Linked DNA regions of Homo sapiens: region 1 is linked to region 2. The links come from fine-mapping of genetic effects on gene expression. Tissue or cell type: nucleus accumbens. Region 2 holds a variant in brackets; the other region holds the start of a gene. All regions are shown on one strand. Distances are between the middles of the regions. Region 1 holds the start of LL0XNC01-250H12.3 (a long non-coding RNA gene). Region 2 overlaps LL0XNC01-250H12.3 (a long non-coding RNA gene).

The links. PIP is the estimated chance that this variant, and not a neighbour inherited with it, causes the effect.
Region 1: LL0XNC01-250H12.3 starts here. The variant in region 2 is the best candidate, but not a certain one, in a credible set for the expression of LL0XNC01-250H12.3 in nucleus accumbens (GTEx, PIP 0.77).

The regions. Positions count from the first base shown.
Region 1 is chrX:103,402,465-103,406,985 of GRCh38, forward strand. It overlaps LL0XNC01-250H12.3 (a long non-coding RNA gene), which reads left to right and starts at 2,316. Exons shown (of 6, transcript NR_188440.1): 1 at 2,316-2,632. RefSeq lists an enhancer at 2,307-2,476.
Region 2 is chrX:103,458,918-103,463,160 of GRCh38, forward strand. LL0XNC01-250H12.3 (a long non-coding RNA gene) reads left to right here. Exons shown (of 6, transcript NR_188440.1): 4 at 2,298-2,437. Among named protein-coding and RNA genes, the nearest start is that of LL0XNC01-250H12.3, 56 kb to the left of the region's middle. RefSeq lists an enhancer at 1,260-1,759. The variant C/T (reference allele first, on the strand shown) is at 2,016.

The sequences.
Region 1 (4,521 bases), 56 kb before region 2:
GCGTCCACTAATTTAAATGTTAATCTCATCCAAAACCGTCCTTACAGAAACACTCAGAATAATGATGATGAGATATATGGGTACCATGGCCCAGTCAAGTTGATGCATAAAATTAACCATCATACTTACACTAAAAAATTATTCATTTTTATCTGGAATTTAGATTTAACTGGATATCCTCTATTTTATCTGGTTGCCCTAAACATGGGGACTCTGTGCTGAACCAAGGTGCTCCAGGAAGCAACCCCAACTGAGCTGCAGGTGGCATCAGCACCAATTGTCTTTCATGTGAGTAAACTCTCTTGGATGTCCCAGTGGAGTGTAGCCCCACAGCCCCGCGAAACATACACCACATGCAGCAGAAAACACATTGCTGAGCTCAGTCAACACTCAGATTTCTGAGAGATAATAAATGGTTTGTTTTGGGGTATTCGTTAGGTAGAAATGGTTATCTAAAACATGGTTTGGGTGAACTTTTCCCCTTTTTCTGTACTTTGTTATCATTGGATATCAAAGGGATTCTCTTATCCTTGAAGGCTTGGTGGGACATTGTTATACTAATAATTTTGAGTATAGTCTCTGTGTTTGTTTGTGTGTGTGTATAAATTTCTGAATATTTAGTCAATTCCTTCTTGAAGGAATTTTCAATGGAAGCTATCACAATATATGATTTTCAACCTACTCTGAATTTAGAACCTAATTCCATGAGATGAGCCTCTATTGAAATCACATGAATTAAGGTACTGACAAAGTGTTGTCACAAATGACTCCACGGGGAAAGCCTCAGAGATTGGCTTTGGCTTGGTGAGTATTCGTTCTGAACAAGGGTTATTTACGTACTTTAAGAAGTGTTTCTGAAAGAAGAGATCTTGAAACTCTTTCTCCTGCTACAGGGGATAGCCTTGCAAGGAAGCTACTTTCCATGGGAACACATAGGACTCCTGCACCAGACAGCAGCTTGATATGCATTGCAGTCCTTGGCCTTTATGATTTTCCTGTCATGGCACTACTTGGTGGATAAATCTTTTTCAATTCTGTGGATCCTTCATAGGAAGCCCACATGCCAGCAAATCTAAGTCATCTTCTCCAGTATCTTCTTTATGAGGAATAAAGTCCATGTATTTTTCTTCTTTCATCTATTTATTACTTGATTTCAAGCTTAGACTTGAAGCATGGAGGTAAATTGCTTAAAAAATCCAAGCAATTTGGAGAAAGACAATAGAAATAGTTGAGCCAGTGAGGCACAGAAAGAGGAGTAGCACTGTGGGCCTATTGTAAGATCTACCTCTGGGCTGGGCTCGGTGGCTCATGCTTGTAATCCCAGCACTTTGGGAGGCCGAGGCAGGCGGATCACCTGAGGTCAGGAGTTCAAGACCAGCCTAACCAACAGGGAGAAACCCTGTCTCTACTAAAAATAAAAATTAGCTGGGTGTGGTGGTGCATGCGTGTAATCCCAGCTACTCAGGAGGCTGAGACAGGAGAATTGCTTGAACCCGGGAGGCGGAGGTTGCAGTGAGCCAAGATTGTGCCATTGCACTCCAGCCTGGGCAACAAGAGTGAAACAGTGAAACCCCATCTCAAAAAAAAAAAAAAAAAAAGATCCACCTCTGAGGGCAGGGAAGAACAAGTGCTCCTGAAGAGCAGCTTACTACCAAGAATTTTGAAGGGAGGCAGCCTGGGCAATGCAACCCCTTTTTCTTCTTCCCAACTCACCAATTAGAGAAGTTCCTCCTGTGACAGAAAAGGATTGAGTGTATAGAGAGTCTAGAAATGTTGTGGTCATGAATGTCCCTCCACATGTAGGAATGAAGGATAAGAATTTTCTCAAGACAAACCATTGCATGGTTGAATTGATTAGGTTTCTAGGCTTGCATTACTGAAATAACTCTGAGATATCTTAAATGACTTATTTTGTTGTTCCTAGATCTTTTAGTCACATGATTATAGACAGTCTTAGTTTTCTGCCACAGATGGATAACTGATTAGTGTGGTGTGTGAACTGTACATGCTCCTCCTCAGTGAGCTAGCTTATCTCCAAGAGCTCCAGGTCTCTGTGCACTGGTGATATTCCTCTACTGTCACTTTTAAACAAAACTACTGACAACCGGGACATTGTTCCATCAAACCTGGCAGAATTCTATCAATTGGCTCCGTCCCAGCCTAGTTCCTCTAATTATTATAGCTACCCAGGAAGCCGCCTGAAGAGTGAAGCCATTTTCTCTTTGTGAAAGCCAAGGAGTCAAAAGGCCACTCTATGGCATTTCCGGTGTGCTGGACCAGCCTGCGTATCACGGTTGCCATAGAAACCTGACGTCATAACGGCGACCGTGAAGACTTTTAAAATAGAGACCAACGTGGCCGGGCAGGAAGAGCAGGGTCCCGCCTTCAGGTGTTTGGGACTCAGCTGAGGGTGTGGGTGCCCCGCGGTGGGGGCTGAACCTTCCTGGGGTGTGGAGAGACGAAAGGAGCCCAGATCCAAGTTCCCTCGTTCCCGCTTTGGCATAAGTTGCCCTGGCGGTCTCATGAGAGAGAGAAAGAGCTGGGACCCTCCTCGCCCCAGTGAGTGTGATGTCTTGCTCCGGGTGTCCTGGGGCAACTTTCTATACAGGCGGGACGTGGGAGGATCAGACAGGTAAGGACTCTCTGAGCCCAGCGTCCCGTTCTGTAAAATGAGGATAAGAATGCACACCCACAGGATTGCTGCAACCTGCAGTGATAACACAGGTGCAAGATGATAGATAGCCCTGTGGTTGTTATGGGACGATGGGTGCTTTATGGATTCAGGCTATTTCTTTTCTTTTATTTTTTGAAAACAACAGAAATTTATTATTTTACAGTTTTGGAGTTCAAAAGTCCAAAGTAGGTCTCACTGGGCTAAAATCAAGGTGTCAGCAGGGCTATGTTCCTTCTGGAAGTTCTAGTGTAGAATGAATTTTCGTTTTTTTCCAGCTTCTAGAAGCTGCTGGCATTCCTTGGCTCATGCCCTCACATTACTCTAACCTCCATATTGTGGTCACATCTACTTCTCCGATTTTATTGCCTCCCTATTTCCCTCATAAAGACCCTTGTAATTATATCAGGCCCACCCATATGATCCAGAATAACCTCACCATTTTAAGATCATTAACTTAATCACATCTGTAAAGTCCATTTTACCATGTAATGTAACATATTCACTTGTTCCAGAGATTAGGACATGGATTTCTTTGGGGCAGAGGAGTGTTATTCAGCCTACAGCACAGTTGTATATTAGATACTGTGCTGGATAGCCTCAATTTGTCTCTTCAAAGCTTCCACCCCTCACCACCCTACTCTGTGCTTCACAGGTCTGATCCTTATAGATTACATCAACTCAGATCCCTTCTCCTTAGGCTTCCAGTTGGGTTTGGCCAATGGGAGATACTAGCAAGTGAGTGAGGGAAAGATGGGGTATGTGTCCCCAGTGCCAGATTCCTTGGTGTTGGGCTACAGGTTGGTAGTGGTTGTGTTCCTCTACCAAGGGCTCAGGCAGTTTCCTCATTCTTTTTTAAAGTTGTTATTAGGTGATAGATGGAAAGGAGAAGAAAAGGCCCTGGTGAGAAACTCATTGTTCCTTCTGTTGTTATGATCACTACCTGATTGTGTCAGTGTCATTGGTCACTAATTCAGTGCCCAGCATGGTTGCAGGCACAGAGTCACTTCAATAAAGCATAGTGATTGCTGGAGTCTGTCTCTCCCCAGGAAGCACTTCACGGGGGCAACTAAACTTATATCAGGTGTCTGAAGGAGGTGGGTTCTGATGATCTAGGTCATGATGACTGCTGAAGCTTCTACTTCAGATTTGCAGGACAGCAGTCCTCAGGAGATCTCTAGCACTTCCATCCTTGGTGGGATATGATGCCTGGCTCAAGTGAGTTCATAGATCTGAGCAGAAGTATGTTGCAGAATAGTAGCTGTGTAGTTCACAAAGTAGTCTAAAAGTAGAGCAGCCACTTTGATCTTATCACTGGAAAAGAGGCTCAACAGGTGGATTTCATTGCGTGCATCAGCAGCTACATGCTTTGTAGTATCCCTTGAGGCCCATTTGGAGCTACCTTTCTTAAAGCAATGAATTGTTCAGTTGGGGAAGAAACTTGATATTTAACATGCATTTGTAATAAATTTACACATAGTTTTCTGACTGTATAAATAATAATTCATTATTCCCATGTATCTCGGATGGAAGTTGAAATATGCAGGTGGTTAGAAGGTCTTCATAGCAATTTGAGATTGTAATATGCATGCTTTCATGGTTAGCGTGTTTTCATCCATTCTGCAATGTAATTTTTTAAGAGGCCAGGAATTTATTAAGTGTTAGTTAAATGTCAGGTACAAGAATTTAGTATTTTTGAAAATAACAATTACTTGATAGTTTGCCCAATTATAATGATACCTAGTCACATCTCCTAAAATAACCAGATAAGCCTAAGTATTATTATTATTATTTCGTAGGAAATAACATTTTCAGTTCTATAGTACCTGGGGTCCCTACCCCTCCTACCG
Region 2 (4,243 bases):
CTGTTAGTCCGATGGGCTTTCCTTTGTGGGTAACCCGACCTTTCTCTCTGGTTGCCCTTAACATTTTTTCCTTCATTTCAACTTTGATGAATCTGACAATTATGTGTCTTGGAATTGCTCTTCTCGAGGAGTATCTTTGTGGTGTTCTCTGTATTTCCTGAATTTGAATGTTGGCCTGCCTTGCTAGATTGGGGAAGTTCTCCTGGATAATATCCTGCAGAGTGTTTTCCAACTTGGTTCCATTCTCCCCGTCACTTTCAGGTACATCAATTAGATGTAGATTTGGTATTTTCACATAGTCCCATATTTCTTGGAGGCTTTGTTCGTTTCTTTTTATTCTTTTTTCTCTAAACTTCTCTTCATGCTTCATTTCATTCATTTCGTCTTCCATCGCTGATACCCTTTCTTCCAGTTGATCGCATCCGTTACTGAGGCTTGTGCATTTGTCACGTAGTTCTCGTGCCTGGTTTTCAGCTCCATCAGGTCCTTTAAGGACTTCTCTGCATTGGTTATTCTAGTTAGCCATTCATCTAATCTTTTTTCAAGGTTTTTAACTTCTTTGCCATGGGTTCAAACTTCCTCCTTTAGCTTGGAGTAGTTTGATCTTCTGAAGACTTCCTCTCTCAACTCGTCAAAGTCATTCTCCATCCAGCTTTGTTCTGTTGCTGGTGAGGAGCTGTGTTCCTTTGGAGGAGGAGAGGCACTCTGATTTTTAGAGTTTCCGGTTTTTCTGCTCTGTATTTTCCCCATTTTTGTGGTTTTATCTACCTTTGGTCTTTGATGATGGTGATGTACAGATGGGTTTTTGGTGTGGATGTCCTTTCTGTTTGTTAGTTTTCCTTCTAACAGTCAGGACCCTCAGCTGCAGGTGTGTTGGAGTTTACTGGAGGTCCACTCCAGACCCTGTTTGCCTGGGTATCAGCAGCGGAGGCTGCAGAACAGTGGATATTGGTGAACAGCAAATGTTGCTGTCTGATCGTTCCTCTGGAAGTTTTGTCTCAGAGGAGTACCCGGCCGTGTGAGGTGTCAGTCTGCCCCTACTGGGGGCTGCCTCCCAGTTAGGCTACTCGGGAGTCAGGGACCCACTTGAGGAGGCAGTCTGTCCATTCTCAGATCTCAAGCTGCGTGCTGGGAGAACCACTACTCTCTTCAAAGCTGTCAGACAGGGACATTTAAGTCTGCAGAGGTTATTGCTGTCTTTTGTTTGTCTGCCCTGCCCCCAGAGGTGGAGCCTACAGAAGCAGGCAGGCCTGCTTGAGCTGTGGTGGGCTCCACCCAGTTCGAGCTTCCTGGCTGCTTTGTTTACCTACTCAAGCCTGAGCAATGGCGGGCGCCCCTCCCCCAGCCTCACTGCCACCTTGCAGTTTGATCTCAGACTGCTGTGCTAGCAATGAGGGAGGCTCCGTGGGCATAGGACCCTTCGAGCTAGGTGCGGGATATAATCTCCTGGTGTGCCGTTTGTTAAGCCCATTGGAAGAGCGCAGTATTAGGGTGGGAGTGACCCAATTTTCCAGGTGCCTTCTGTCACCCCTTTCTTTGACTAGGAAAGGGAATTCCCTGACCCCTTGAGCTTCCTGGGTGAGGCAATGCTTTGCTCTGCTTCAGCTCACGCACGGTGCACTGCACCCACTGTCTGGCACTCCCTAGTGAGATGAACCTGGTACCTCAGTTGGAAATGCAGAAATCACCCATCTGCTGCGTCGCTCACGCTGGGAGCTGTAGACTGGAACTGTTCCTATTCGGCCATCTTGGCTAAGACTTAAGTCTACATTTCTATTATCATTTCTTATTATGTGCAATCTTTTTTTTTTTTTTGAGATGGAGTCTTGCTTTGGTGCCCAGGCTGGAGTGCAATGATGCAATCTCGGCTCACTGCAACCTCTGCCTCCTGGGTTCAAGTGATTCTCCTGCCTCAGCCTTCCAAGTAGCTGGGACTATTATAGGCACATGCCACCATGCCTGGCTAATTTTTTTGTATTTTTAGTAGAGACAGGGTTTCACCATGTTAGCCAGGA[C/T]GGTCTCAGTCTCCTGACCTTGTGATCTGCCCACCTTGGCCTCCCAAAGGGCTGGGATTACAGGCGTGAGCCACTGTGCCCAGCCTGTCATGTGCAATCTTGAGTATCACTGCTGTGTGGTGGTGGGGACAGTGAGATGAAGCTGAGGGAGAGGAAAAACCTCATTGCTTAGCTTCCAGTTAACTGAATGGGGTATAGGCAAAACATCATCACACGTACAACCTCCTTACCTGTCCTCTTTCTTTCCTCACTATTCCATGTGCTTTCTTATCTCCCTTCTAGTGTAACATCAGAGAAGGGGTGTACTCTGTGCCCTAGAACTAGGAGCTAACAGAGAAAAACCAAATGTGATGTGGAGTCTGCTAGACAGGCTACTGGAGCAAGAGTGAAGCGATGAAAGTCTCATCATTGGGACATATTAGGTGAGTCACTTCCCTTACACCAGCCTCATCTATTCAACAGGATAATAATTCCCAATCTTCCTGACCACTCAAGAATACTCTGGAGATTAACAATGAACTCATATGGGAAAGCAAACTGTGATCTTAGGTGGGAGGGAAGGACCAGTCACTTTTGAGTAATTACCTTAACAGAGACAATCCAGATGTCCTAGAGTTCTCCATGGTGGGCATTAAATTAATGGCACAGTAATGTGAGGTGTTTTCATCAGAATTTTGCCAAGTATGGTTCGTGGACTACTTCATCAAAATCATCATGGATTGCCTGTTAAAATAGTAGATATTTGGGTCTACCATAAGTCAGCTGAATGAAAAACAGGGAGATGTGGTGGCAGGTATCTATATTTTGAGAAATTTTTCCAATTGGTTGTGGTACTCATCCATGTTTGAAAAGCACTGCTGTGGATTTGCAACAAGGTCTATGAAAAATTTGAATCCTTTCATGTCTAATTTCATCATTGGTTGCTCCTACTACTTTGCTTTTAATATCTGTGTCATTTCTGTTTTGTGAAATAGGTACCAGTTCCTTTAATTCAGTAATTTTCATTCAGTGATTTATGTGTGGAGCATTGATCTAAGCACCGGGGAAACAGCACAGAGAACAAGACAAACATGGTCCCCGGACATATCATTTCTAGTTTGAGAAAACTGGTAATAAGTAGGTAAACAGATCAATGAGCAGGGTAATTTCATATGGGGATTTGTGTTTTAACACATATAGAGTATTAAATGACCAAGATAAAGATAATTACAGATGGGGTTGTAAGTGAAGCTCCTTTTCAGGAAGTGACATTTGAGCTGAGTCCTGGATAACAAAAAGAAGCTAGGCACAGACTGACTTTTTGCCAGTGTGTATACAATGTGCATGGGCACCGTGTGTTCCAAGAGCAGGGAAAAGCTCAAGTGCCTAGAGCCTGGCAGACAATGCACAGACTGGTGAGATGAGGTTGAAGGGGCAGATAGGAGCAATATTGTTTAAGCCATTGTAAGGAGTTTGGATTGTATTGTGAGTGTGGAGGGTTAGAGAATGGGAACAATATCATCTGACTCATGTTTTCAGAAAGTGACTCTGGTCACTGTGCAAAGAATGGACTAGAGAGGGAGAAGATAGTGTGTGAGAATAACCATTAGAAAATATTGCGGAAGTCTAGGGAGGAGCAAGCTGATGGTATCAATGCTGCAGCCATGTGTAGAGGGAGAAATGGACCTTGACAGTATGTGTTTGGAGGTAGGGAGGGTAAGACCTGTAGTAGCTGTGTGTGTGAAGTATGTGGGGATAAGGCAGAATAAAGTATGACCCCTCAGCTTTTTGTACAGCCATGTGGAAAAACGATAGTGCTATTTTGTGAGATCAGTCATTCCAAGTGCTTTTGAGATGTTCTTAAGTTAATTAAAATTTAGGTCATCCAAGGTTGGTTGTAGTGAAAATTAGAGATTTTAAGAATGCAGGTTGTGTATTTCAAAATAGTTAAGAGAATAATTTAGATGTTTCTAGCATAAAGAAAACAAATAGTTAAGGTGATGGATATCTCAGTTATACTGATATGATCTTTACAAATATATGAGTGTGTTAAATTTTCACATGTACCCCCCAAAATATGTAACCCTATATTATATATCAATTGAAAAAATAAATAAAGGTAATAGTAATGTTCAAAAAAAGAGATATCCTTGCTGATTCCCACTTTATAGATGAGAAACTGAGTGGCAGAGAGAATAAGGACTTTGCCTGAGACTACACAGTTAGGGAGTGGGACAGCTTGGATTTGT